Linked DNA regions of Homo sapiens: all the other regions are linked to region 2. The links come from fine-mapping of genetic effects on gene expression. A gene starts in region 2. Each other region holds a variant in brackets. All regions are shown on one strand. Distances are between the middles of the regions.

Region 1 (10,890 bases), 68 kb after region 2:
GAGAAAATGTGGCAGCTGTAGTTGGTAGTGGAGTCAAAACAGACTTTTTGTTTGTTTTTAAGATGGGAAACATAACATTTGTATGTTGATTGAGACTGATCCAGGAGAGAGGGAAAAATTGATGATGCAGGAGAGAGAGGAGAACTGCTGAAGCCATGCCCTTGAGTAAGCATGTATATGAGTGAGGAGGTTGGCTATGAGCTAGGATAATTCCTCCATAATAAGAGGAAAGAACAGGACTTTTAGCAGTACAAATCTGGTACCAGTGTGGAGAAGAGCTTAAAGGGAGAACTTGCATTTGTTGGTTACTTACTTTTTGTCTAGCATTGTTAGATGCTTTCCTCACAAGAGTTCTTTTTTATTTTTACTTGTATTTTTATTTTTTTCCAATCATATTCTTTCTAATTATTTTTATTTTTTTAGAGACAGGATCTCACTCTGTCACCCAGGCTGGAGTGCACTGGCATGATCATAGCTCACTGCAACCTCAAACTCCTGGGCTCGAGCGATCCTCCCACCTCAGTCTCCTGAGTAGCTATGACTACGGGTACGTGTCATCATGCCTGACTAATTTTAATTTTTTTTTTAAAATGGAGGTCTCACTATGTTGGCCATCCATGGCCAATATAACAGCCATGTAACAGTCACCGTGCCTGACTGCAGCAGTTCTCAATGTATGAGGAAAATGGGTTGTGACACTGTTGTAATGAGGCAAGAAAAGTTAAGAACTGAACTCAAGCTGCTGAAGATCCAAGATACTGTGCTCTTTATGCTCTGCAAAACTCCCCCACCCTTGCCCCTACCCCCACCAAATTGCATTGGCCTCTCACTGCAGATGTCAGGATGCCATCCATTTGGATAGGAAGAAACTGACACATTGGCTCAACCATAGGGTAGAGTTGCTTGTTTCTTATAAAGGAAAGAAAGATTTGAGTGGTCGTAAGAATCTGCAGTACTAGGCAGCTCTTGGTGCTGGAGGGCCTTCGCCCTGAAGCCAGGCAAATTTACCCAAAAGATAAAGACATAAAAAGAAAATGCAGGAACAAGGAAGAGTGACATTCTTTATTTTTTATTTTGTTTTATTTATTTATTTATTTGAGACAGAGTTTCGCTCTTGTAGCCCAGGCTGGAGTGCAATGGTGTGATCTCGGCTCACCGCAACCCCTGCCTCCCGGGTTCAAGTGATTCTCCTGCCTCAGCCTCCCGAGTAGCTGGGATTACAGACATGCACCACCACGCCTGGCTAATTTTGTATTTTTAGTAGAGACGGGGTTTTTCCATGTTGGTCATGCTGGTCTCGAACTCCCAACCTCAAGTGATCCTCCTGCCTCGGCCTCCCAAAGTGCTGGGATTACAGGAGTGAGCCACTGCGCCCGGCCAGAGTGACATTCTTAGTAGAGATCTGAAAGGAAATATAAATGAGAGGGTGGCTGGAGAGCACAGTCCAGCTTAGGAAGTCTCCTTGACCTCTCTCCTCCTTCCTCTGAATTCCTATTTCAGCAGCTAACAGTCAATGAAAAGCAATTTACCTACATCAAATCACTTAATCCTCACCACTGTCCTGTGAAGTGGATTCTAAGGAAAGGGTGAGAGAAGTGACCTACCCCACGACACACCTAAAAAACAGCAAAACCAGGAGTAGAACCCAAGTGTCTGACACTAAATTCATGTCCTTAACCCTTGGTGCCTTTGTTCATTCATTAATTACCTCAAAAATTCTGTAAACATTACTCAGAAGCCACTCTGTGGAAGGTACTGGGGCAAGTGAGGCCGTCTTCAGGTTAAAAAAAAAAAAAAGATAAGACTTGTGCACATAAAAGGCGTGACAAATAACCACAAAACATTACACCATTCTATAGGATTTCAGAGGGGAGTGAGGTCACTCTGGCTGGGGATATCAGGGAGATCAAGGAAGGTTTCCAAAAGGAAGTAGCATTTGAGATGAGTCTATATAAACTGGTAATATTTTAAAAGCTAATAGTTTTATATGCAATATACACAGAACATTACCACACACGTGTTCAAAAGTTACAAGCAATGGAAGACTGTGTGAAGTTTTAATTGGCAGAAAATGGAGGGTAAAAGGCCGGGCGCTGTGGCTCACGCCCGTAATCCCAGCACCTTTGGGAGGCTGAGGCGGGTGGATCACTTGAGGTCAGGAGTTTGAGACCAGCCTGACCAACATGGGTGAAACCCCGTTTCTACTAAAAACACAAAAAAATTAGCCTGGCTTGGTGGCGCGTGCCTGTAATCCCAGCTACTCAGGAGGCCGAGGCAGGAGAATCTCTTGAACCCAGGAGACAGAGGTTGCAGTGAGCTGAGATGGTGCCACTGCACTTCAGCCTGGGCTACAGAGTGAGACTCCATCTCAAAAAAAAAAAAAAAAAGAAAAAGAAAATGGGAGGTAAAGGCCTGGAGGAAGGAAAAGGTCTGATTGTTCAGGATCTAGAGAAGGTCCCAGTCCAATCCCCCGACTCAGTCTCAATGTCCAGCCCCAAATGACTTGAGAGTATTTCTTACTCAGGTTTCTCCCTTAAAAGCATATTCAAACCAATGCATACAATGGGACACTATGCAGCCTTTTGTAATTTTTTTTTTTTTTTTTTGAGATGGAGTTTCGCTCTGTCGCCCAGGCTGGAGTGCAGTGGCGCGATCTCGGCTCACTGCAACCTCCACCTCCTGGGTTCAAGCAATTCTCCTGCCTCAGCCTCCCGAGTAGCTGGGATTACAGGCGCCCACCACCACGCCTAGCTAATTTTTTTGTATTTTTTTAGTAGAGGCAGGGTTTCACCGTGATAGCCAGGATGGTCTCGATCTCCTGACCTTGTGATCCACCCGCCTTGGACTCCCAAAGTGCTGGGATTACAGGCGTGAGCCACCGCGCCCGGCCCAATGCAGCCATTTTTTAAAATGAGGAAGTACTTACGAATTTATGAATAATTAGGACATTATTTCCAAAATGTAATGTTAAGTGGTAAAAAAAAGGCAAAGGTGCAGAATCCTGGATATTGTAGGCTACTATTTGTGTAATAATCGGAAAAAAGAATACATGTGTGTGCATGCACTTGCTCATTTACACATAAAATAGGGACAGATACCCAAGGAACTGATAATAGTGCTTACTTCCTGGAGGGAAGCTTAAGTGGTTTGAGGACAGGGTGGGAAGGCAATTTTTATTTTTATTTTTTAATTTTTTTTAATTATTTTATTTTATTTTTTTGAGATGGAGTCACGCTCTGTTACCCAGGCTGGAGTGCAGTGGCACAGTCTCGGCTCACCGAAACCTCTGCCTCCTGGGTTGGAGCAATTCTCTTGCCTCAGCCTCCGAAGTAGCTAGAACTACAGGCAAACACCACAAAGCCCAGCTATTTTTTATATTTTTAGTAGAGACAGTGTTTCACCATGTTGGGCAGGCTGGTCTCGAACTCCTGGCCTCATGTGATCCGCCTGCCTTGGCCTCCCAAAAGTGCTGGGATTACAGGTGGGAGCCACCATGCCTGGCTGGAAGGAGATTTTTCTCACTGTATACCTTTTTGTATCTTTTGACTTTTTAATCATGTGGATATATTATCTCTTCAAAAAATAAGTACAAGCTGAGCATTTTTTCCCTTTAATATTGTATGTTCTCCAAATGAACAAGCTGAGCTTCTAAAAAAATAAGTGTAATAGTCTCTAAAGGCCACTCCCTGAAAAGAGGGCTTATATTGCAAAATACTGGTATACAGTGAAAGCAGTAACAGTTCACTTAGGTTTCAAAAATTCAGGCCTTCATCTGCATGGCCAAAAAAAAAGCAGAAATAAAGCAACAAACTATAAACTAGGTAAAATATTTATTATTATTTTTTTAACGTAAAACAGCTGTTATAAACCAATAAGAAAAAGACCTATGACCCAATTCAATAATGGCGAAGGACTAAATGGGCTTCATGCAAACAGAAATATAAATGGACTCTTTTTTTTTTTTGAGACAGTCTCGCTCCGTTACCCAGGATGGAGTGCAGTGGCACGATCTTAACTCACTGCAACCTCTGCTTCCTTGGTTCAAGCGATTCTCATGTCTCAGCCTCCCAAGTAGCTGGGACTACAGGCACATGCCACCATACCTGACTAATTTTTTTGTGTTTTTTGTAGAGACGCGGTTTTGCCGTGTTGGCCAGGCTGATCTGGAACTCTTGGCCTCAAGTGATCCATCTGCCTCGGCCTCCCAAAGTGCTGGGATTATGGGCGTGAGCCACTGTGCCTGGCCTGAACAGACTCCTATAATAATTTTTTAAATGACCAACCATGTTTGTAATTAAAGAAAGGCAAATTAAGACAATCAGCCACTGCTTTCTTAACATTATCAGACTGCAAATACCAAAAGGTTGGATACTACAGAGTGTTAAAGAGGGCATGATAAAACAGATACTCCTCCATACTGTTGGAAGAGATACAAATTGGTTTACTCTCTTCAGGTCACCAACTGGCAATGCCTATCAACCTTGAAAATGAGCATACCTTTGACCCATCAATTCTAATTCTGAGAATTTATCCTAGATAGATATCCTTGCATAGGTGCAAACACAAAATTATTTGTAGCAAATTATTCAATTGCCTCATTCTTTGTAATTACAAAACACCAAAATCAACCTAAGTACTTTCCAGTTGGGGAAATTGCTACATCTAAACTGAGGAATACACTGGGAAGAAGTTGAAAATGGTGTGGCTGTGTATTACTGTTACGACAAGACCTTGATTTAGCCCCTTCATTATCTCTTACTTGGACCGCAGTAATAACTTCCCAGCAGGTCTCCCTGCCTTCATCTTGCCCTCTTGCAGGACCTGCTACGTAATTTGCAGGGCCCAGTGCAAAAATGAAAATGCAAGTCTCCTTGTTAAAAAAAAAATAAGAATTTCAAAATGATGACAGCAGAACATTAAAACAAGCGTGAGGGCCCTTCTAAGAGGGGGGCCCTGTGTGACTACAGAGGTCACAAGTCCATGAAGCAGGTCTTGCCCCTTGAGTGTCACTTGGACACTGGCTGCCCATGTGACATGCTGCATCCTCTGCCTGGAACATCCTTCCACTGCCATCTCTTTTTCTCTATGATGTACTACACGCCTGCCAATAAATAACTCTAATGTGACCTCCTTTGGGAAGTTTTCCCAAAGTCTTAAAAAGTTCTTACTCAAAGTCTTACAAAGTTCTTACTCAAATCACTCTTTCTTCAGTACTCCCCTAGCTCTTGCACATAGTTTTATTAACTCTTTATCACAGTGTTTGTTTTTTTTTTTCTTGAGACAGAGTTTCACTCTTGTAACCCAGGCTGGAGTGCAGTGGCATGATCTTGGCTCACTACAACCTCTGCCTCCTAGGTTCAAGCAATTCTCCTGCTCTCAGTCTCCCAAGTAGCTGGGATTACAGTTGTGAGCCACCACACCCAGCTAATTTTTTTATATTTTTAGTAGAGATGGTGTTTCACCATGTTGGCCAGGCTGGTCTCAAACTCCTGATCTCGGGTGATCCTCCTGCCTCAGCCTTCCAAAGTGCTGATATTACAGGCGTGAGCCACCACGCCCAGCCGATCACAGTGTTTTTATAATTATTTCTTTAAAAGTTTCTCTCCTAGAGTTTCTGCAGGACTTGGCCTATGGATTGTGCTTTGTTTGTTTTTTGGGTAACTCTGGCACCTCATACATTACCTAGCACATGGGAGTTGAGAGAATGAATCAGCTGGAGTGGATGTATTTGGATGGGTGTGTTAAAAAATCAGCCATATATTGCTTCACAGTTACACCTCATCTTCAGGTTGTTAAATCTGACTGGACTCTTAATTT[A/C]ATAGAGGCCAGCAGGTCCTGATGACTGGTTCTTCATTCCAGGAGCCATAGAATAGTATCAGACAGTCCCTTGAAGGGGTGGGAGGTACCTGGACCTGAAAATTTTGGAGGCTCCCGCAAGCCATTTACACCTATCTCTGAATCTCCTTATACCTTTCACGCTTTTAAAATGGAGGTGCAATCTCATTAGGGCCCACTGGCCCCATCAATCAGTGCCAGGTTCCAGGAACCCAGTAGTTTCAGATTGCCCCCAGTCCTTTGCAACACTGGTTTTCAAATGGGGTATGCAATAGCCGTAAAGTAAATGAAGGCTTGGTAAGCGGTACTCATGCATGGATATATTTAAGGAAATTCATTTCCAGATCCTCAACTTCCAGATGTACTCCACCTGAGAAAGTTCCTGGGGTTGAGGCTCCAAGCCGACTTTTTCTTCATAATTGTAGTTCTGCTAGTCTTCATAAGAAAGGCCAGGCATGGTGGCTCACGCCTGTAATCCCAGCACTTTGGGAGGCAGAGGTGAGTGGATCACCTGAGGTCAGGACTTCAAGACCAGCCTGGCCAACATGGTGAAACCCTGTCTCTACTAAAAATACAAAAATTAGTCAGGCACAGTGGCACGTGCCAGTAATCGCAGCTACTGGGGAGGCTGAGGCAGGAGAATCGCTTGAACCCTGGAGGTGGAGGTTGCAGTGAGCCGAGATCACACCATTGCTCTCTAGCCTGGGCAAGAGTGAGACTCCATCTCAGAGAAAAAAAAAAAAATGGAAAAAAGAAAAGAAAGAAAGGCATATATCTGACCCACCCTGAATGATACATTGCACGGGGCAATTAAAAAAAAGTTCAGAACTGGGGACAGTTAAAAATACAAGATTCAGAAAATAGCCTTCTATTATCTTTTAAAAATATGTCTATATTTTTGTTTGTTTGTTTTGAGACAGGGTCTCGCTCTGTTGCCCAGGCTGGAGTGCAGTGGCGCAACCGTAGCTTACTGCAGCCTCAATCTCCTGAGTTCAAGTGATCCTCCCGCCTCAGCCTCCCAAGTAGCTGAGACTACAGGCGTGTGCCACCACACCCACCTAATTTTTAAAAATTTTTCATAGAGATGAGGTCATACTATATTGCCCAGGCTGGTCCTCAATTCCTAAGCTCAAACAGTTCTCCCATCTTGGCCTCCCAAAGTGTTGATATTACAGGTATGAGTCACTGCACTTGGCCTAATGTTTTTTAAAAATTTTATTTATTTATTTTCTTAGAGATAGGGTCTTGCTCTGTTGCCCAGGTAGAAGTATAGTGGCATGATTATAGCTCACTGCAGCCTTGAACTCCTGGGCTCAAGCAATTCTCCCACCTCAGCCTCCCAAATAGCTAGGACTACAGACACACACCACCACACCTGGCTAATTTTTTAATTTTTGTAGAGATGGAGTTTCTCTATGTTGCCCAGGTTGGTCTCAAACTCCTGGGGTCCAGTGATCCTCCAGACTCAGCCTCCCAAAACATTTGGATTACAGGCTTGAGCCGCTGTGCCCAGCTCACATTATTTATCAAAATTATTTTAAGTGGTATGTGAGCAAAAGACTATGAAGACCACTGGTTCAAGACCATAGGCTATGGTGGCCTTTAGGAGGTTTTCTAAGAGGTAGTGGCCTAGTCTTCTCCACCTCTAGTCCTCTGAAACTGAATCTGTTTCACTAGGCAGACCAAAAAAATCATCGTAGACCAAGAAAGTCATTGCACTTGATTTCTTTGTAATTACCACCATGGTTGACCAGTCTTCTTTTTGAAATACACTTCCCCTGACTTTGGCATCATTGCACATTCCTGATTTTCCCCTCCTTGGCCCCTTGTCCTAAGTTTTTGCTAGCTCCATCTCTTCCAGTTGACCTTTTAAATTCTGGAGTTTCTCAGGGAAGTTATAAGCCTTCTACTCTTTCTATTATTTTCTAAGAAATGTCATCCATGACCACAGTTTCAAATATAATCTGTATCCCAACAACTCCCAACTTTCTATTTCTAGCATAGACCTTGCTCCCAAACTCCTGAATCTGATTGCTTATTCCACATCTATACCTTAATGTCTCGTGGGATTCCCGAACTGCAAAAAGCCAAAGCCAAGTTCATATTCTTTCCATTCATAATGTCTTCCTCCTCTAGGCTTCCCCTGCTTAGTAACAGTGCTCTATCTGCCCAGTTGTTCATGCCAGAGACCTGGAAGGCATTCTTGATGTCTCTTTAACCTCCCCCATAGCCAACCAATAATTTATTCCTATGAATTCTACTTCATGTAAGATTTCCCTAAGCCTCCAGACCAGGCTACATACCCTTATTCTATACCCTCATATAGCACCTTGTACTTCATAGTATTTATTCAAACTGTAATTAAGTAATTATTTTGTGTAATTCTGTCTCCCCCTCTACACCATAAGCTCCATGAACACAAGGACAATACCTGCTTATTTCTGGCATATAGTAGGCTCTCAATTAATATTTGTTTATTTATTTTTTGGGGATGGAGTCTTGCTGTATCACCCAGGCTGGAGTGCAGTGGTGTGATCTCGGCTCACTACAGCCTCCGCCTCCTGGATTCAAGCAATTCTCCTGCCTCAGCCTCCCGAGTAGCTGGTATTACAGGTGCGTGCCACCATGCCCGGCTAATTTTAGTATTTTTAGAGGTGGGGTTTCACCATGTTGGCCAGGCTGGTCTTGAACTCCTGGCCTCAAGTGATCCACCTGCCTCGGCCTCCCAAAGTGCTGGGATTACAGGCGTGAGCCACCACGTCCAGCTGAATATTTGCTAAATGAACAAATGTAAGCACTATTTATAGTGTCGTAGTCTTTCCAGTGTTGTGTAGTGTTCTGCTGTGTGTTTTTGTGATTTAAAACCTATTGCTATGTTCACGGTAGGGGGCAGCAGAGTACGCGGATACTGAGAGAGTCCAGTACTCAGTATTAAAAGGGCAACTTCAGATAAATGACTTAACCTTTCTGAGACTATTTCCTTCTCTGGAAGTCAGGGTTAAGTCTCCTTCCCTTGGATCAAAAGAGATAAGCAGATGTAAAAGGGCTTCACTGCAGGACAAACAGGAGACAATGTGATTAGAGTCAGTTAAGATAAATATTTGTTGAATAAACAGACACAGAGCAAGAGGATTTTGGCTATACGACTGTGGAACAGATTGCAGTAGAGAGTTGACAGATTCCGAAGAGAGAAAATGAAAGCTCCAGGAAGAGACTGGCCTATGCCCAGAGCCAGCCTGTGAAGTCAGCACAGGATGTCCTTGGCATGCTGTCATCTCTGCTCCCTGATCATTGCCCTCCACCTCTACCTCTGGCCTCTAGTTTCCCATCGCTGTGCTGCCGGCTTTTCCTTCCCTTCTCTCCCATCAAAGCACATCTGTCCTATGTCCTGGCCACTCCCAGGCCTGCTCACTGCCATCCACAGTCACTGCTAGTTAACCCAATAAATGGATTCTCACTAAAGTGCCCAGGGCAGGTAGTGTATTATTTTACCATTCTCAATAACACGAATTGGACCTTCTTGAGACGGAATAACTTACTCAAAAATTATGTTTCAAATAATAATAAAGTTTAGGTTTTGTGGAAGGAGAGGAAATGGAAGGTTAACAGAGATGAAGACAGTCCTAACTTGACCGGGCGTGGTGGCTCACACCTGTAATCCCAGCACTTTGGGAGGCCAAGGCAGGCAGATCACCTGAGGTCAGGAGTTCGAGACCAGCCTGACCAACATGGAGAAACCCCGTCTCTACTAAAAATATGAAAATTAGCCAGGTGTGGTGGTGAGCGCCTGTAGTCTCAGCTACTCGGGAGGCTGAGGCCAGAGAATCACTTGAACTTGGGAGGCAGAGGTTGCAGTGAGCCGAGATCATACCACTGTACTCCAGCCTGGGCAACAGAGTAAGACTCCATCTCAAGAAAAAAACAAAACAAAACAGTCCTAACTAATTTCAGGCTCAAGAAAGAATAATTGTACAAATACAAAATCTGTGAGATATGACTTGATAGTAATATGAGGGGAAAAAGCTTTTAAAAATATTCATATGTGTATATATATATATATATATATACACAAACATACACATAATAGATTTGCATACATATAATTTAATTGTAATTTACATTCAGTAAAATTTACATTTTGGTGTAGAGTTCTGTGAGTTTTGACAAATGCAAAGAATTATGTAAACACCACCACACACAAACAAAAAAATAAAACAGTTAATCACCTTCCCAAATTCCCTTTTGTTACCCCTTTGTAGTCAAAGCCTTCCCTACCCTTAAGCCCTGGCAACACTGATATGTTCTCTATTCCTATAGTTTTTTCTTTTCCAGACTGTCATATAAAATGGAACCATACAATATGTTGTATTTTGAATTTGGCTTCTTTCACTTGGCATAATGGATTTAAGATTCATCCATGTTGTTGAGTGTATCAGTAGTCAATTCCTTTTCATTGCTGAGTAGTAGTGTATTGTATGGATGTACCACAGTTTGTTACTCCACTTCCCAGTTGAGGAATATTTAGGTTGTTTCTAGTTTTGGCAATTATGAATAAAGCTTCTGTAAACATTCACGTACAGGTTTTGGTATGAACATAAATTTTCATTTTACTTGGGCTAATTTCTAGGAGGGATTGTTGGAGCCTATGGTAAGTGTGTGTTTAACTTTATAAGAAACCTAGAGGGGCTGTATCATTTTGTTTTCCCACCAGTAATTTATGAGAGTGGCAGTTGTTCCGCCTTCTCACCAACAATTGGTATTGTCAGGGATTTTTTTCAATTTCAATAGGTGTATAGACATACCTTACTGTGGTTTTAATTTGCAATTCCCTACCAACAAATGATGTTGAGCATATTTTCAAATATTTATTTGCCATCCATGTATCTTCTCTGGTGAGGTGCCTGTTCAAAACTTTTGCCTTTTTAAAAAATTGTTTGTTTTCTTATTTCTGAGTTTTGAGAGTTTTTTTTTTTTTTTTTTTTTTTGAGATAGAGTCTCACACTGTTGCCCAGGCTGGACTGCAGTGACGCCATCTTGGCTTACTGCAACCTCTGC
Region 2 (7,393 bases):
TTTCTGTCTCTGTAAAGATTAGCTAAGATATGCGGTCTTCCTGCTCAGTTACGTTGGAATCTTAAATTCCCTTTACCACATCTCTACCCTACCTTCCTACCTGTCAGCACTGTTAATTCTGGTCGTTGGTCCTTTCCTTTTTATTATTATTATTATTTTTTTTTGAGATGGAGTTTTCGCTCTTGTTGCCCAGGCTGGAGTGCAATGGCACGATCTTGGCTCACTGCAACACTCTCTTCAAGTGATTCTCCTGCCTCAGCCTCCCAAGTAGCTGGGATTACAGGCGCATCCCGCCACACCCGGCTAATTTTTTTGTATTTTTAGTAGAGATGGAGTTTCACCATGTTGGCCAGGCTGGTCTTGAACTCCTGACCTCAGGTGATCCTCCCACCTCGGCCTCCCAAAGTGCTGGGATTACAGGCGTGAGCCACTGCGCCCGGCCGGTCCTTTCATTAAGCTGGATCTGTCTTCCATTACTGCTGCCCATTGTTTCTTAGTTCTGCTCATTGAGGTCACTTTTAGAAGTCTGTTTATTTTATTTTTTTACTTTTACTTTAATTTTTAAAAATCTTAAGCCTGCTTGGGAGGTCGAGGCAGGTGGATCACCTGAGGTCAGCAGTTCGAGACTAACCTGACCAACATGGAGAAACCCCGTCTCTACTAAAAATACAGAAATTAGCCGGGTGTGGTGGCGCATACCTATAATCCCAGCTACTTGGGAGGCTGAGGCGGGAGAATTGCTTGAACCCTGGAGGTGGAGCTCACCCTGCGGTGAGCTGAGATTGTGCCATTGCATTTCAGCCTGGGCAATAAGAGTGAAACTGTGTCTCAAAAAAAAACAAAAAACAAAAAACAACAACAACAAAAACTTAAGCCTAGTGACCTCAAAGTATTTTCCTATTCAGTTAAAATACTCTGATCTCTAACCATGCCCTTAGGACTTGAAGCAAGTTCTGACAACAAGGGAGATTTTAGCTTAGTCCTTGTGTATTTTATGATGGGAGTGACCTGGAATTCAGAAATTGATTGGCGTGTATTTGTAGATTGTTCATTCTTGTTGCTGTATGGTGTGTTTTGTGTAAGTATATCACAACGTATTCATCCATTCCATCGACAGTGCATTTGGGCAGTTTTCACTTTGGTCTGTTAGGAATAGTGCTGCTGGCCGGGCATGGTGGCTCACGCCTGTAATCCCAGCACTCTGGGAGGCCGAGGCGGGCGGATCACGAGGTCGGGAGATCGAGACCATCCTGGTTAACACGGTGAAACCCCGTGTCTACTAAAAATACAAAAAAATTAGCCAGGTGTGGTGGCGGGTGCCTGTAGTCCCAGCTACTTGGGAGGTTGAGGCAGGAGAATGGTGTGAACCGGGGAGGTAGAACTTGCAGTGAGCCGAGATTGTGCCACTGCACTCCAGCCTGGGCAACAGAACAAGACTCCGTCTCAAAAAAAAAAAAAAAAGTAATAGTGCTGCTATGTTTTTTTAGTGAACACATGTACATATTTCTACTGGGTATATGATACCTAAGAGTGGCATGGCAGAGTCACAGGTTATGTGACTATTTAGTAGTAGTTGCAGATGATGCCAGATAATTATCTAAAGTGATTGACCAACTTACACTCCTGTCTCAGTATGAGAGTTCAGTTGCTCCATATATCTTTGCCAACACTTGGAATTGATGACTTGTAAAAATTTTAGTCATTCTGGCTGGGGGCAGTGGCTCACACCTGTAATCGTAGCACTTTGGGAGGTCGAGGTGGGCGGATCACCTGAGGTTAGGAGTTCGAGACCAGCCTGGCCAACATAGTGAGACCCCATCTCTACAAAATCACAAAAAGTTAGCCAGGTGTGGTGGCACGCACTTGTAATTCCAGCTACTCAGGAGGCCGAAGCAGGAGAATCACCTGAACCCAGGATGCAGAAGTTGCAGTGAGCTGAGATCGCACCACTGCGCTCCAGCCTGGGTGACAGAGTGAGACTCTGCCTTAAAAAATAATAATCTAGCCATTCTGCTATGTGTGTAGTGTTAGCTCAGTTTTTTTTGTTTTTTTGTTTTTTTTTTTTGGAGACGGAGTTTCGCTCTGTCACCCAGGTTGGAGTGCAGTGGCGCGATCTCGGCTCACTGCAAGCTCCGCCTCCCGGGTTCACGCCATTCTCCTGCCTCAGCCTCCCGAGTAGCTGGGACTACAGGCGCCCGCCACCACGCCTGGCTAATTTTTTGTATTTTTAGTAGAGACGGGGTTTCACCGTGTTAGCCAGGATGATCTCGATCTCGATCTCCTGACCTTGTGATCTGCCCACCTCAGCCTCCCAAAGTGCTGGGATTACAGGCGTGAGCCAACACGCCCGGCAGCTCAGTTTTTAAGTAGCAAAATATACAGCTAATGCCAAGAGCTCAGCTTCCCTCCCAGTTGGTGATGGTGAAGTAGGCAGGATTTATTGGGATTCCTGGGTGGTCTCTGGCCTGCCCTGGGTGTTTTCCAGATCAGTGGGTTGGAGGGCTGGGCTCTGGGCCTAAAGCTTTCCTGGGAAAGCTGATTGGGCTGGGCTGAGTGGTATCCTCAGCCCCTAGGGCTCAGCAGGCATCTTGTGTATTCACCCTCTAATTTGGGTTTCTCCAGGGAACAGGCACGGTCTCCTGGTACCCAACAATACCACCGACCAGGAGCTGCAACACATTCGCAACAGCCTCCCAGACACAGTGCAGATTAGGCGGGTGGAGGAGCGGCTCTCAGCCTTGGGCAATGTCACCACCTGCAATGACTACGTGGCCTTGGTCCACCCAGACTTGGACAGGGTGAGGCAGCCCAACTTGACCCAAGAGTCACAGGGCCATCCTAGTCAGTGGTTAGCCACTGTTCTTTCCCAACAGGCAGCAATTAGGGGTCTCTCCTGTGGTTTTTCTATATGGGCTCTTGAGTTTCAGGTACTCATTGGAATAGTGATAACAGAGGCCTTATCAAGTGTCAGAAAGAAGCTGGGGAGGGTATGAATCCTTCATGATTGGGGAGATTGAACCATCCAGTCCTGCATCCTGGGCCAGGATAGGTGATTGACTGTTGAACTTTTGACTGTGGGTGAGAGGGGAAAGAAGTGATATTGAGACCAGCCTCCAGCTGTTCAGGGCATGCATGAATATTAGGGGCTTCACAGCTGCCCTTGACTCTGCTCTAAGCTGTACTTCCTCCTTTCTCTGGGTGAGGCTTTCATATGAGGTACAGAGGAGAAATGAGGGGCTCAGGGAGCCAAGGCCTGGATGCTTCTGGGCATGGAGAACCTTGGTTCTGGGGCTGTAAGTTCTGAGCCCTGAACACAATATCTTTGATTGACAGGAGACAGAAGAAATTCTGGCAGATGTGCTCAAGGTGGAAGTCTTCAGACAGACAGTGGCCGACCAGGTGCTAGTAGGAAGCTACTGTGTCTTCAGCAATCAGGGAGGGCTGGTGCATCCCAAGACTTCAATTGAAGACCAGGATGAGCTGTCCTCTCTTCTTCAAGTCCCCCTTGTGGTAAGCATTCCTGTCCTCTGAACCCCGTCTCCCGAGGCAGATCCTTTTGCCTAGTGTTTGGGAGTCTGGGTCATTACCTGCCACAGTTTGGGACTGGGGCTGCAGGTCAGGGAGGAGCAGGGTTTGGGGAGAGTCTTCATTGAGGAGGGAGAGAATTTGGTGCCGTGACTCACATTGAGCCCATCCCTTGGCAGGCGGGGACTGTGAACCGAGGCAGTGAGGTGATTGCTGCTGGGATGGTGGTGAATGACTGGTGTGCCTTCTGTGGCCTGGACACAACCAGCACAGAGCTGTCAGTGGTGGAGAGTGTCTTCAAGCTGAATGAAGCCCAGCCTAGCACCATTGCCACCAGCATGCGGGATTCCCTCATTGACAGGTACCTGGGGCCTCTCCTTTCTTCTGCTCAGGGTTGGGGGTTAACTTGCATTTTGAGAGTATGGGGAAAAGATGTCATCTAGAATGGGAGCCTACCAGTTTGTTCTGGTAGCTTCTCGAGTGTGAGAGCATATCTGTACACTGCTGAGCAGATAAGAGCCAGCATATTCAAAAAATATTTCTTGAGCATCTGCTAATCCTCATCTTTGTGGTTTTTCAGGGCTAGGATACTAGAGCAGTAGCTGCTTGAGCAGCTTGTCAGAGCTGGTCCCGGGATGAGGGCTGAGGCAGGCACCTCACTTGAGAGTGAGGTGGGCTCTGTGAAACAGCTACTGACCGTGCGCTTTCCTTTCTCTTCAGCCTCACCTGAGTCACCTTCCAAGTTGTTCCATGGGCTCCTGGCTCTGGACTGTGGCCAACCTTCTCCACATTCCGCCCAATCTGTACCGGATGCTGGCAGGGAGGTGGCAGAGAGCTCACTGGGACTGAGGGGCTGGGCACCCAACCCTTTTCCACCTGTGCTTATCGCCTGGATCTATCATTACTGCAAAAACCTGCTCTGTTGTGCTGGCTGGCAGGCCCTGTGGCTGCTGGCTGAGGGTTCTGCTGTCCTGTGCCACCCCATTAAAGTGCAGTTCCCTCCGGGCCATTCTGAATGTGATGTTTGGGGCCCTCAGCCTGTGTACAATCCCTGCACTCTCCAGTTGTTCCAGCATTCTGGGAAGATAGGGTGGGATGAACACAACACACACCCAACCCAGTTCACCACCTCCACACACGCCATTCCCTTCTCCTCTACCATCAGGATGTGAGGCTTCATCCTGGGGCAAGAAACACTCTCCACTACAGTTCTCCTTTTTTCTTTTTTCTTTTTGAGGCAGTGTCTCCCTCTGTCACCCAGGCTGGAGTGTTGTGACGCAAGGATGGCTCACTGTAGCCTTGACCTGTTGGGCTCAAGCGATCCTCTCGCCTCGTTTATTTTTTTGTAGAAACGAAGTCACTGTGTTGCCCAGGCTGGTTTATACTCCTGAACTCAAGCGACCCACCGCCTCGGCCTCCCAAAGTGTTGGGATTACAGGCGTGAGCCACGGCGCCCGGTCTAGTTCTCACAGTTTTCACCCGACTTCTGCGCCGGTCTTCTCTGGCCTTGAAAGGCAGAGAGTCCGTTCCGATTTTCCCCTGAGCTGGGCAAGTCCCCTGTGAGAGCTCTGGGGCATCTGGCTTCGGGGCATTCTTTGACTAAGGTGGATGGAGGTTGCAGGTCTTTTCCTGGGTGGGCGTGGGGCGGGGCAGCGGGTTCCCAGCGTCCTCCTGGCCTGGGCGTCTTGGAGGCTGTTGGGGTGCATTCCGTCCCCTTGCGCGGGGCGGGGCCTTGAGGCGCTGGGGCGGGATTGGCGGGGGACGGTCGCGGAGCCCCGCCCCGAAGCACAGGGTCGAGTCCCTTCTTTCCGCTCCAACGCACGGAGGGTGAGGTCGGTACGCGGTGGTGGCGTCACGGCGCCAGCTCCTCCCGACGCCGAGGTGGGTTCCGGGAGACCCGCGGGTCTGGCTGCGAGAGGTGAGGGCAGAGCCGGGGCGGGGCCCTAGCGGGGTGTCCCGGCGACCCAGACCTTAAAGGGCTTCTCTTCTTGCAGACCATGGGGGCTCAGCTAAGCGGCGGCCGCGGCGCCCCGGAGCCTGCGCAAACCCAGCCCCAGCCCCAGCCCCAGCCTGCGGCGCCGGAGGGCCCGGAACAGCCCCGGCATCCGCCCCAGCCCCAGCCCCAGCCCCAGCCCCAGCCCCAGCCCGAGCCCAGCCCGTGGGGGCCGCTGGACGACGTGCGCTTCCTCATCGCCTGCACTTCCTGGTACTGACGGCGTCCTCCGCAGGATGTCGCCCGTCTGTCCGCCGTCCCCTGTGGTTCTTGCCTGCCTTGTCTCCTCTCCCCACGTCCCTGCGTCTCTTACACCCCCTCCCACCCGAGGCTCCCCAGAGATAGCAGAGAATTCGAAGAGGTCGCCGGGGACTGGAAAGAAGTCCCGGCAGGGCCGCCTTCGCAGTCTACACCCCAGCCTGCTTCCCAGCCTACACCCAGACCCAGCTCAGACCTTCGTGACCACCCCATCCCTTTCTCCGGCTGGCTGGGTCGGGGGCATCCCTCTCTGTCGCTGGCTTCCAGAGGCAGGACAGGCCTCCTGGTAAGCCCGCAAAGTTGCTGACCTCCTGACTTCGTCTGCCTTTTATTAATATCTGTATTGCTGATAACCGTGCTCTTGACTATGTGTCCCAGGTCATGTCCCAGGTCATGGAGAAGCCCGTGCCACAGTGACCCTCCCCATACTCCTGGGGGGGCTGCTCTCCATCCTGGATCGTAAGGAGGCATCATCAGGCTGTGTTCCTGGAACCCCAATAACCCTGGGCCCCCAGGGCCAGCCTGTTGTAGAGGGAGGCTATCTGACCGCCGGTCTGGCAGAGGAGATGGGTGGGCAGCTCCCAGACACCCCAAAGGACCCGGTTCTCTTCCCAGAGCGTCCTAAGGTTACTCTTGGAACCTGATCTTTGTTCCCTCATCCCAGGGAAATGACACACTCTGTATTTCTGTTTTATTTAGAAATGATTTAAAAAACATTATACAAAGGCTGATCAGTTTAAAATGTGACTGACACTGAAATGCTGTGATGTCCCCCAGGCTGAGGGGAAGCTAGGCTCTGGGGCCCCCAGTGCTTTGCCCCTCTGTCTGCCCTGTCCTGGGGTGATGGACAAACAGATGACCACAGGCAGGAGAATCTGAGATTGGAAGCCTCTAGGCTGAGCCCTCTGGGCCTGGCCCCACATCCCTCACCTCTGCAGCCTGGGCTGCCTGCCTCCATCTCCTGTTCATTCTCAGCTGGCCTGCCAGGAGCCAATGGGGAGCCTGGCGGGAGGCGGGGGTGCCTAGAGCTTTCAAGAAGTGAGAGCACCAACCTGAGGAGTGGACAGGGACCAGGAAGTGGGGGAAGGGAGGCCAGGAAGAGGTGGATACAGGAGACACTTCTCATCTCATCTCAGACCCTAGAGGGGTCCACAGATGGGGACACAAGACCCAGCCAGCCCACTGGATGGCCCGGGCAAGTAACAACCTCTCTGTGCTTCATCTGAGGGCACGGTGAGAGTTACCGTCGGCCTCCCAGGGCCTAACACGAGTTTCATGTGAGTGGACAGGTGTGAGCTAATAAAGTGCTTTGCAAAGTATAAAACACTGTACAAACCTATGAATCACTAATATCTCCGCAGTTGTTCCCTGCCTGTCCCAGGGAGCCTGCCCTTGGCCAAAATGAGAAAAAACAAGGATGATGACAGGGGACACAGCGGACCCACATGGGCACCTCTGGGACAAGAGATTTTGCTTGAGACAGCTCCCAGGGCAGCAGGAGTCCCTGTCTGTGCTACAGGGTAAGCCGACCCCAATCCCAGAGACCACAGGGTCGGGGGCAAGGCCCATGCAGGCTCAGTGAGCAGGGGTGGCATCCGAGACCCGGCCAGCACGCTG
Region 3 (10,890 bases), 26 kb after region 2:
TGGGATTACTCCAGTGCTCCCATCGCACCTGGCCCGGGGAGCCTTTTAAACACATGGAGGAGGTGGGGAAGATATTCTGATTCAGGAGGTTTGGTTTGGGACGTAGGCAATCTTTTTTGTTGTTTTTTTTTTTTAAGTTCTCCAGGTGAATTGTATAATGGTTGGGTCAGGCTGACACAACCTGAAGCAAATGCTCGACCTCAACATCACTAAAAGTGGGACAGTCTGCATCATATGTATTTGCTAATATGGTGAATAGGAAGTACCAGCACCACCTAGGAAGTATTCTTGCCAAAAAAATTGAACTTGAATCTAGTCAGCCTGTAAATCTAATGAACAACATTCAGGAATTATGGGCAAGAGAGACGTATTAAAAGTAAACTTGATTCTAGTCACGCCAAATGATTATACTCGGGACACCTGACCCAGTTTCTTCAACAAATATATGGAGGGAAACGTGTGTGTAGGACGGGGGTGTTTTAAATAAAAAGGGCTTTAAGAGACATGTCAGCCATGTGTGTGTGGATCTTGTTTGGATCCTGATTCAAGCAAACAACTGTAAAAGACATTTCCAAGGTACTTTGGGAAAGTGAACTCGAACTGGGTATTAGATTTTAAAAAATTATTGTTAATTTTGTTGGGCTTGATAATGATTGTGTGCTTATGTTAAAAATTAGCCTTTATCTGTTAGAGGTATATACTAAAGTATTTAAAGGTGAAATGTTAGAATGCCTGAGATTTTCTTTAAAATACATCAGCCAAAAAAAGGTAGATAAATAGGAATGCCACAACGTTGATAATTGCTGAGGCAGGTGGTGGGTATCTGGGAGATCATAGAAGCATTCTTCCTACTTTTGTGAGTTTGAAATTTTCCATAATGAGAGTTTAGAAAAAAGAAGTAAGCTAATAAGTTCAAAAAGTTCCCAGGAAACTCCACCCCTTTGCTGAGTCTATGTGGAAATTAAACGAGATAATATATGGATGCTCAATAAATTTTGGTTCCTTGCCTCTCACCCAAAACCTGCCTTCACTGCATTCCAGTTCAGGAGTCGATTGCTGTGGTCCTGAGCTGCATCTGGACAGTTCCTGCTTGGTTTTCCAGAGCAGAGCAAAGTCCTGATTCTTATCCAAAGAAAACATTAGCAATCTTGGAATTTCTATCAGAATTGGCAGTCTTTCATGAAGGTTAGGGTTGGACAGATGGGAGAGGTGCTGGGATGGTGCCCATCCACAGGTCCCCGGTCCTTCCCACACATACCACCGGCTCTTGGGATTTGGGGGCTGGGTCCAACAAGTTCTGCAAAAGCAAGGAGCAGGTGTGGGAAGTGCACACCCCCAGTGCTGGGCAGAAGGGGAGGGCAGAGGAGTGGGAGTGTCTTCCCGTTGCCTCTGGACAACTCTTTGGACATTCATTTGCCTCTATCAGGAATATAACTAAAACCCTATCAGCTAACAGTGCCTGGCACATAACAGGGCCTCAAAAATATTAGTTCTCTTCTCCTCACATCTTATCTGTTAGCACAGACAGCCATTCGTTGACACCGATCCAAAAATAAGAATGAGATAAAGAACAGGTACTCAGCCAGGAATACATGCAGGACATACGGGAGAGATACCAGGGCAAAGGAAACGGAGTTCAATAGGAAAGAGGACAAAAATCTGAAGAAAGAAGAGGACAAAGAACAATTTAACAGGTTCATGACTTTGCCTAGGCTGAGCCTTGGCCAAACCACCTCCTGGTCCAGCCTTTGACAGATAACCCCAGAGCTGCCAATCCCTAATCCATGCGATGATATAAAGTGTTCTCAAGGAGGTGATCCCCAACTATAGACACCAAACATGGCCCCAACTATAGACACCAAACCAGCTTTGAGAGTCTGCTCTCAGCCTGGAGCAGCCGCAGGGCAGGAAAAAAGGATGCTCGGTGTTTCCCAAGCTTGTTTGAGCTCAAGAGTCAGGATTTCTGTGGGAAGGGCCTGGGAATCCCCGTTTATAACAAGAACCCCCATTGGTTCTTATGATCAGGCCAGGTAGGAAAACTCTAGGTATTAAGATAGCGTTTCTCATGGTGATGGAACACCTGCATCAGAAGGCCCCAGGAATGTATTAGACCACTTGCAGATTCCCAGGCCCTACCCCGGACCCAGAGAATCAGAATGACAAGAGGTTAGGGTCCTGGAATCTGCAGTCTTTTTTTTTTTTTTTTTTTTTTTTTTGAGACGGAATCTCTGTTGCCCAGGCTGGAGTGCAGTGGCATGATCTCGGCTCACTGTAACCTCCGCCTCCCGGGTTCAAGGGATTCTCCTGCCTCAGCCTCCAGAGTAGCTAGGATTACAGGCACCTGCCAACATGCCTGGCTAATTTTTGTGTTTTTCGTAGAGATGGGTTTCACCATGTTGGCCAGGCTGGTCTTGAACTCCCGACCTCAGGTGATCCACCTGCCTCGGCCTCCCAAAGTGCTGGGATTACAGGTGTGATCCACCGTGCCTGGCCTGGAATCTGAATTCTTAAAAATGGTTCCCAGGTGATTCTGCTGTGCCCTACAGTTTGAGAACCATGGAAGCTTAGCATGATGGCTGACAGCATGGGCTCCAGGGCCATAATGCCCAGATTCAAAGCCTTATTTCACCATTCACCAACTGTGGGACCTTAGGTAGGTGACTTAATGTTTCTCTATATCTCAGTTTACCTATCTGTAAAATGAAGATAGCAATATTTACCTATAATAATAATTTAACATTATATATTGCTTAATACATAAATTTAATTATGCATTATAATGTATTAATAGATATAATAGTTTCCACACATAATGGGTGGCAAGCACTTGGCACGGGCCTCAGAACACCAGCATACCCACTAATTATCATCTCTTATAATCCAAAAGCCACACTCCTCTGTCCCTCTTTCCTCCAAACTCCTACATATTTCTTTGTGCCTCTGCTACAGCCTTGGGTAGAGTCTGTCTATGACAGGGTTACTTACGTGCACACCTAACTCCCCTGCTAGACTGACTCTGGACTGCCAGGGGACAGAGATCATGCCATTTTTTTCAAACATTCAGCTCCCCCTGGTCTTTGCAAGACTTTGTATCATGTTCATTAGAGTTGGAAGGGCCCTTAGCGATCACCTAATCCAGCCCCTCACTTTGCAGACGAGGAGACCGAGGGTATCACATAGCCAGTAGTTGAACCAGGGCTTGATACCTGCATTGTCACCTTTCAGCTATGCCAGTTGAGCCCCAACTCTTCATCTTAAAAATGGGTGTAATAATGTACACTTGCCTACATACTAAGCATGTGCCTTGTGAGTAAATATTGATGATGAATTTTTTGGCAACCTGCAGGGTATCATTACTATTGCTGCACGGTATTGACTCTGCCTCCATAAATATTCATTGAACCATAGTGGTGCAGGGTAAATTATCCAAGGATGCCAGAATAATTTCAGGGCCTGCTACTCACCTGTGAGGGTGACAAAGGAGAGAGCCAGTCGTGTCATTCATAAGATGGCTTTTGGAGCCCTCATCATTCAGGCCAGAGCCTACTACTTTCAGACCCCTCTTTCAGCTTTAATGCCTTTTAACTTTTTTTTTTTTTGAGATGGAGTTTCACTCTTGTCGCCTGGGCTGGAGTACAATGGTGCGATCTCGGCTCACTGCAACCTCTGCCTTCTGGGTTCAAGCGATTCTCATGCCTCAGCCTCCTGAGTAGCTGGGATTACAGGCACCCGCCACCACGCCCAGATAATTTTTGTATTTTTAGTGGAGACAGGGTTTCACCATGTTGGCCAGGCTGGTCTTGAACTCCTGACCTCAGGTGATCCACCTGCCTTGGCCTCCCAAAGTACTGGGATTACAGGCGTGAGCCATTGTGCCTGGCCCCTTTTAAACTTTTTCTTCAGCCTCTGGTCCATTACTTTATCTTCTTACTGGCCTAACCTTACTTTTCTCCTGCCAACCGGACTATCTTCTAAGTGATCTGACTCATCTCCATGGCCCTGGCCCTGGTGGATTGAACGTTGAATATTATCAGAAATCACAGTTCCCACCCTCTTACGGTCTTAGTTCTTGGACAAGAGGCTCTAGAAAGCAGGAAACTCATCTAGGATGTCCTCCAAGTTCTTTCCCAACAACTGAGCAGCCCAAGACTGACCCCTGTCCCCTCATGGCCTTACCGTCATGGTTGGCATTTCCTAGCGTCCATGGCTCATCGGAGTCAAAGTGGGTGTCTCCTCCAATCCCTGGGCCAGGGAAGTAGGCATGGGCCAGGAATCCCCCTTCTCCATCAAATGGGGAGCTGTCGCCATGGAAACCAGAAGCAAAAAAGATCATGATGTCTGCCTCCTTCCGGTCACTTTTGATCTCATGGTATGGCACCTCTTCAAAGGTCAGTGGGGTCACCTTCTGCCACACATCGAAAGCCTGGCGAATAGCTTTCCGCGTGTCTAGCTCACCCACTTTTGGGGTATAGTTGTGAATGCTGGTGAGAGAGGGGAGGATCATTAGGCAAGATCAGAGAGTCAGAGACTAGCAGAGCTAAAATAGATACCTGAGACAATGTGGCTCAGTGATCTGATTTTGAACCCTAGAATTCTGCTTAGCTGCCTCAGGGATTGAAGAAGAGGCTGAGTAACAGAGCTCTGGATCCCCACCCTGCCTCAGTCAGATGGCTTTGCTTTACTCAGTGTTTTCCATTTGATCTCCAGCAAAGCTGTGTCGAATAAAGGATTCCACTCTAGTTTGTTGAGAAAAGTAAATTGGGGCTGGGCGCAGCGGTTCACGCCTGTAATCCCAGCACTTTGGGAGGCCGAGGCTGGCGGACCACATGAGGTCAGGAGTTCGAGACCAGCCTGACCAACATGGTGAAACCCTGTCTCTACTAAAAGTACAAAAATTAGCCAGGCGTGGTGGTGTGAGTCTGTAATCCCAGCTACTCGGGAGGCTGAAGCAGGATAATTGCTTGAACCCGGAGGCAGAGGTTGCAGTGAGCCAAGATTGCACCACTGCACTCCAGCCTGGGTAACAAGAGTGAGACTCTGTCTCAAAAAAAAAAAAAAAAAACCCAAAGGAAATTGGTAGATAGCATTTTCTGAATTTTAAGTTTTTTTCCCTAATACGAAATATGTTCATTTATAAAAGTTATAAAAATATTCAAATAATAGAGAGGAGTTTAAGTGAAAAGTCTCTTTAAAAAATCTTTGGTACCAATCTTTGGCTTGTCTGCCTAGAAGCTGGCCGGTATCTGATTTAATCCATTATAGGTTTAGCTGTTTAGCGTCGCTGTGTTCATATTGCATTGGTTCTTCACAAAACAACGTTACTACCTGTGGGTTCCCTGCCCTGTGACCCTCTGGGGCATGGATTATTCTACCTACTCCACACGTAAGGAAACTGAAGCCCAGAGAAGTCTAGTGATAGAAGTTACTCAGAGTTGGGTTAGAACCCAGTGCTTCTTTCTCTTGATCCACTCTACCCCTTCAAGAGACCCAAGAGTCTATTCAGTTTCTAACCTAGATTCTTAAGTTTCCTTCTCTTGTCAGATTTCTGGAAAAAAAAAATCCCGTTCTGAAGGGACAGCTTATCAGCAGAAGAGCCCTTAGTTCAACCCTAACTTTCCTTCTCTTGTCAGATTTCTGAAAAAAAAAAAAAAAAAAAAAAAGTCCCGTTCTGTAGGGAGTGCTTGTCAGCAGGGGAG[C/T]CCTTAGTTCAACTCTTGAGGATCTCTGTCTTAGATCTTGCCTCTGCACCAAAGGGATCCACCTGAGATGACAGCAGAGCCTTGAGAAGTGCCAGCCAGCACCCACCCGAGCCTGCCCATGCCTGGCCCTTGCCCCAGCCCCACCTGAGCCTGCCCATGCCTGGCCCTTGCCCCAGCCCCACCTGAGCCTGCCCATGCCTGGCCCTTGCCCCAGCCCCACCTGAGCCTGCCCATGCCTGGCCCTTGCCCCAGCCCCACCTGAGCCTGCCCATGCCTGGCCCTTGCCCCAGCCCCACCTGAGCCTGCCCATGCCGGGCCCTTGCCCCAGCCCCACCTGAGCCTGCCCATGCCTGGCCCTTGCCCCAGCCCCACCTGAGCCTGCCCATGCCTGGCCCTTGCCCCAGCCCCACCTGAGCCTGTCCAGTGCCTGCCCCTTGCCCCACCCCCACCTGAGCCTGCTCAATGCCTGGCCCTTGCCCCAGCCTCACTCCGGTGCTTCAGTCTGCTGTGATGGGCTCCATCATCTAGTTCTTGGGCCACTGATCTGACTTGGAGATGGATCCTGCTCTGCCCTTGGTTCCTCCAGACAGTCAAAGATGACACTATTATGATTCAGGTCCCAGTTCTTTATACTCCTTAAGAAACAACTGGAACTCTGCGTTGGGAATCTCAGGTGAAGTCCATCAGGTGGATTTTGGGGTGGGAGGATCCAGATCAGAGGGAATGGGGTTTGGCAGGCAGTGATAAGGAGACTGAATTAAGCCATGGTTTTGTTTGTTTTGTTTTGTGGTTTTTGTTTCATTTGTTTTGTTTTGGAGACAGAGTCTCACTCTGTCACGCAGGCTGGAGTGCAGTGGCATGATATAGCTCACTGCAAGCCACGATTCTTTTTCACAGCTGAAAGTTACCAAACCATTCATACCCCACTTCCTGTAACCTAAAAACTATAGGCATCTAAACAGAAGACAACTAAGAGCCCCCAGAGGACCAAATAAACCTGAGGTTGGAGTCACAGCATCCTGTGGAAGCCACAAGGAGGACAAGGTTATGGGCTCTCAGCACCTAGTGCCAATGCCCACATGCCTGGCTCTTGGCCTATGTTGTAAGCCTGATCCCCAGGCCCCCCTACATTGTGAGCCTTTGAAACTCAGGCCAGGAAAAACAGAGTGAGGGTGGAGCCAAAGGCAGGGAGGAAGAGGGAGAGTCGAAGCACCTGTAGGTGATGTGTTTTTGCCTCCACTTCTGTCCAGTCAGGGCATAGCGCTTGTTTCTCCGCCTACGGCTTAAGTGGGGGTGATCAGGGACACCACATCGGGGTTTCTTCATCCACCTGGGCAGAGAGAGGACACACACACACGCATATGCACTGTGGTCACTGAACACTTTAGGAAGGGACTGCCTATTCCCCAGCTCCAGTCTGGAAAGCAATGTGCATCCTCAAGCTACACTCTGGGACCCTGGCTTGGATGGACCCCAACAAGAACATGATTGATTGATTCATTAATTCATGCACTCACAATCATAGATGAGGAAATAGCTGTATAAAGACTGAGAATCAGAATATATGGGCTTGATAAGCTCCAGCTCCACCACTAGTCATAGGACCCCCAGGCAAGTGGCTGAACCAATATGAACCTCAGTTTCCTCCTCTGCAACATGAGAACTCTAGTTCTTGGTCTTAGGTGGAGGTGCGTCTTCAAGGAGGAAGTACATGTGAAAATGCTCTGTAAATGCAATGAGATTACAGGATGCCCTGGTTAAAAGCCTCCAGCGACTTCCCCAAACACTGAGAATAAAATTCAAACTCTTCAGCTGGGCACGGTGGCTCACGCCTGTAATCCCAGCACTTTGGGAGGCTGAGGCGGGTGGATTATCTGAGGTCAGGAGTTCGAGACCAGCCTGGCCAACACGGTGAAACCCCATCTGTACTAAAAATACAAAAAAAAAAATTAGCCAGCTGCAGTGGTTCACACTTGTAATCCCAGCTACTCAGCAGGCCGAGGCAGGGGACTTGCTTGAACCCGTGAGGCGGAGGTTGCAGTGAACCAAGATTGTGCCATTGTGCTCCAGCCTGGGCAAGAAGAGTGAAATGCCGTTTCAGGAAAAAAAAAAAAAAAAGAAGTGGCTTAACAACTGTGGGATGTGGAACATAATTCTCTGCAGCACTTATTATATTGTGTTGTGATTTAAAATTTATTGGTTTATTTCCTCTAATAAATGGTAAATTGAGGACAGGAACTATGTCCTATTCATCATTGTATCCTCAAAAGAAGGTAGCCCAGTGCCTGAAATTACGTAAATCCTGATATCTGTTTGTTACCAGGTGATATGTTTTGATTTGTGTCTCTGTTGGAGGCGGGGCCTGGTGGGAGGTGATTGGGCCATGCAGGCAGACTTCCCCCTTGCTGTTCTGCTGATAGTGAGTGAGTTCTCATGAGATCTGGTTGTTTAATGGTGTGGAGCACCTCCCCCTTCTCACTCTTCCCCCTGCTCCTGCCATATGATGATGTGCTTGTTTCCCCTTTGCCTTCTACTACGATTGAAAGTTTCCTGAGGCGTCCCCAGCCATGCTTCCTGTAAAGCCTGTGGAACCCTGAGCCAACTAAACCTCTTTTCTTTATAAATTACCCAGTTTCAGGTATTTCTCTTTCTTTCTTTCTTTTTTTTTTTTTGAGACAGAGTCTCGCTCTGTTGCCCAGGCTGGAGTGTAGTGGTGCCATCTCAGCTCACTGCAACCTCTGCCTCCCAAGTTCAAGCAATTCTCCTGCCTCAACCTCCTGAGTAGTAGCTGGGATTACAGGCGCGCACCACCACGCTTGGCTAATTTTTGTACTTTTAGTACAGACAGGGTTTCACTATGTTGGCCAAGCTGGTCTTGAACTCCTAGCCTCAGGTGATCTGCCCACCTTGGCCTCCCAAAGTGCTGGGACTACAGACATGAGCCACTGCGCCCAGCACATTCTTTTAAAATGTTTAATTCTTGGCCAGGTGCAGTAGCTAACACCTATAATCCTAGCACTTTGGGAAGCTGAGGCAGGAGATTGCTTGAGCCTAGAAGATTGTGACCAGCCTGGGCAACATGGCAAAACCCTATCTCTACTAAAGATACAAAAAATTAGCCAGGCATGGTGGCATGTGCCTGTAGTCCCAGCTACTAGGGAGGCTGAGGTGGGAGGATCACCTGAGCTTGGAAAGTTGAGGCTACAGTGAGCCAAGATCACACCAGTACACTTGGGTGAGGGGAGTCAGACCTTGTCTCAATAAATAGATAAATAAATAAATAAAATAAAAAAGTTTGATTCTCAAAACAACACTGTGAGGTAACAGAAATTATTATTCCCGGGCCAGGCACGGTGGCTCACACCTGTAATCCCAGCACTTTGGGAGGCCGAGGCGGGCGGATCACGAGGTCAGGAGATCGAGACCATCCTGGCTAACATGGTGAAACCCCGTCTGTACTAAAAAATAAAAAAAAAAAATTAGCCGGGCGTGGTGGCGGGCCCCTGTAGTCCCAGCTACTTGGGAGGCTGAGGCAGGAGAATGGCTTGAACCCAGGAGGTGGAGCTTGCAGTGAGCCGAGATCCCGCCACTGCACTCCAACCTGGGCGACAGAGCGAGACTCCGTCTCAAAAAAAAAAAAAAGAAATTATTATTCCCATTTCACAGATGAGGGAAACAATCCACAGATAAATCCAGTACCTTGCAAAACACAGAAATCAGCAAGGCAGGACTGGAACTTAGTTGAATGAAAAAATGAACTATTCATTAATGCAATTTAACAAAGCCTGGAGCTTTTATTTTTTCCTGTCAGTGCTTAGCACAAAGCTGAGCTAGAGGAACTATGTTGTTGACCAAATGAATGAGTGAATGAATAAATGTGTGACATTTCCCAAGGCGACACTCAAACATAGGACTTTAAATGGCTAATCTAGCTTCCTTTAATTAACAGTCCCTGGGAAGGGAACCAAGAACCACCTCTGACTGAGTTAGACCCAAAGGCACCTAGGGGAGGAAACAGGCTCAGAGAAAGGCAGCCATTGCCCAAGGTCACAGAGCTGGAGCTGCATCTTGGGGCTCTAAATTCTACCCTGAACACTCCCCATCTCAGGTCTTGGATTAATAAGTGCAACTGGCTTCCTCCTTCCCCTGCTTCCAGACCACAACTCCCCCGCCTTCTACAAGGAGGTGTGGGCAGAACTGCAAGTGGGAAATGCCATCCTTTTCCCTCGGATCATTCCCGCTGCCTCCTCCTTTCACCATCCACCTGCCACTCTCTGAGCGCCATCCAACAGGCCTGGGGCTTTTTGGAACAGAGTAAAACCCAAGGCCAGGTGGTGCCGCAGCAGAGACACCAGTGCTTCTGCCCCAGGATGCACTGCCATGAGGCCTGTGCAAAGCCCTCAAAATAACCTCCGCTTTGAAAGGCGGCTGGGCTCTCTTTAACCAGCCCACTCTGGAGACCACGGGGCCAAGGAGTCCACTGTATTCACAACAGCACAGGAGAAGAAGTTCACACTCATAATCAGAGAATCCTAGGAATGGGAAATGTTCACACAGGATTTTAGGATCCTAAAACCCCAGACTTGCCAAGTTTTAAAAGCTTAGATGCTTAAAATAATGGAATCTAGGCTGGGCACGGTGGCTCACGCCTGTAATCCTAGCACTCTGGGAGGCCGAGGTGGGCCGATCACCTGAGGTCAGGAGTTCGAGACCAGCCTGGCCAACATGGTGAAACCCCATCTCTACTAAAAATACAAAAAAAATTAGCCAGCATGGTGGTACATGCCTGTAATCTTAGCTACTTGGGAGGCTGAGGCAGGAGAATCGCTTGAACCCTGGAGGCAGTGGTTGCAGTGAACCGAGATCACGCCACTGCCCTCCAGCCTGGGTGACAGATCGAGACTTCATCTCATCAAAAAAAAAAAAAAGGGGGGGGGAATCTAGAATTTAGAGCCATAATCCAACACCCTCCTTTGCAAATGAACACACTGAGACCCAGAGAGATGATTCTGTCCAGGAGTGACTTACGTCAAATTGATCCTTGATCCACAACTGGGTGCATTTCCTGTTCCTCCCCCCACCAACTCCCTTGGATCCTCACCCAGCCCTGCTAGCATCTTCCACCTGCCTCAGGTTCCCCTCCCTTCCCACCTCCTTAGGAAACTCACTCCTGTTCTTTTCCATGCTTTAATGA

What was found.
Region 1: its variant is fine-mapped to the expression of MMP24OS in spleen (GTEx, PIP 0.98).
Region 3: its variant is fine-mapped to the expression of MMP24OS in lymphoblastoid cells (GEUVADIS, PIP 0.93).

The regions. Positions count from the first base shown.
Region 1 is chr20:35,206,405-35,217,294 of GRCh38, reverse strand. All of the region lies in intron 4 of MMP24-AS1-EDEM2 (MMP24-AS1-EDEM2 readthrough), which reads left to right. It also overlaps a transcript of PROCR not described here. Among named protein-coding and RNA genes, the nearest start is that of MMP24, 15 kb to the left of the region's middle. RefSeq lists an enhancer at 736-1,235. The variant A/C (reference allele first, on the strand shown) is at 5,818.
Region 2 is chr20:35,276,059-35,283,451 of GRCh38, reverse strand. It overlaps MMP24OS (MMP24 opposite strand), which reads left to right and starts at 5,330. Exons shown (of 2, transcript NM_001355003.2): 1 at 5,330-5,443; 2 at 5,520-7,100. The coding sequence starts at 5,523. The coding sequence ends at 5,738. MMP24-AS1-EDEM2 (MMP24-AS1-EDEM2 readthrough) reads left to right here and starts at 5,330. Exons shown (of 15, transcript NM_001355008.2): 1 at 5,330-5,406. It overlaps MMP24 (matrix metallopeptidase 24), which reads right to left. Exons shown (of 9, transcript NM_006690.4): 9 at 6,454-7,393. EIF6 (eukaryotic translation initiation factor 6) reads left to right here. Exons shown (of 7, transcript NM_002212.4): 4 at 2,623-2,798; 5 at 3,334-3,510; 6 at 3,705-3,886; 7 at 4,246-4,534. The coding sequence ends at 4,255. RefSeq lists silencers at 5,151-5,370, 5,461-5,680 and enhancers at 5,811-5,980, 6,101-6,200, 6,787-7,393.
Region 3 is chr20:35,248,041-35,258,930 of GRCh38, reverse strand. All of the region lies in intron 2 of MMP24-AS1-EDEM2 (MMP24-AS1-EDEM2 readthrough), which reads left to right. MMP24 (matrix metallopeptidase 24) reads right to left here. Exons shown (of 9, transcript NM_006690.4): 3 at 6,910-7,026; 4 at 4,177-4,481. Among named protein-coding and RNA genes, the nearest start is that of MMP24-AS1-EDEM2, 25 kb to the left of the region's middle. The variant C/T (reference allele first, on the strand shown) is at 5,697.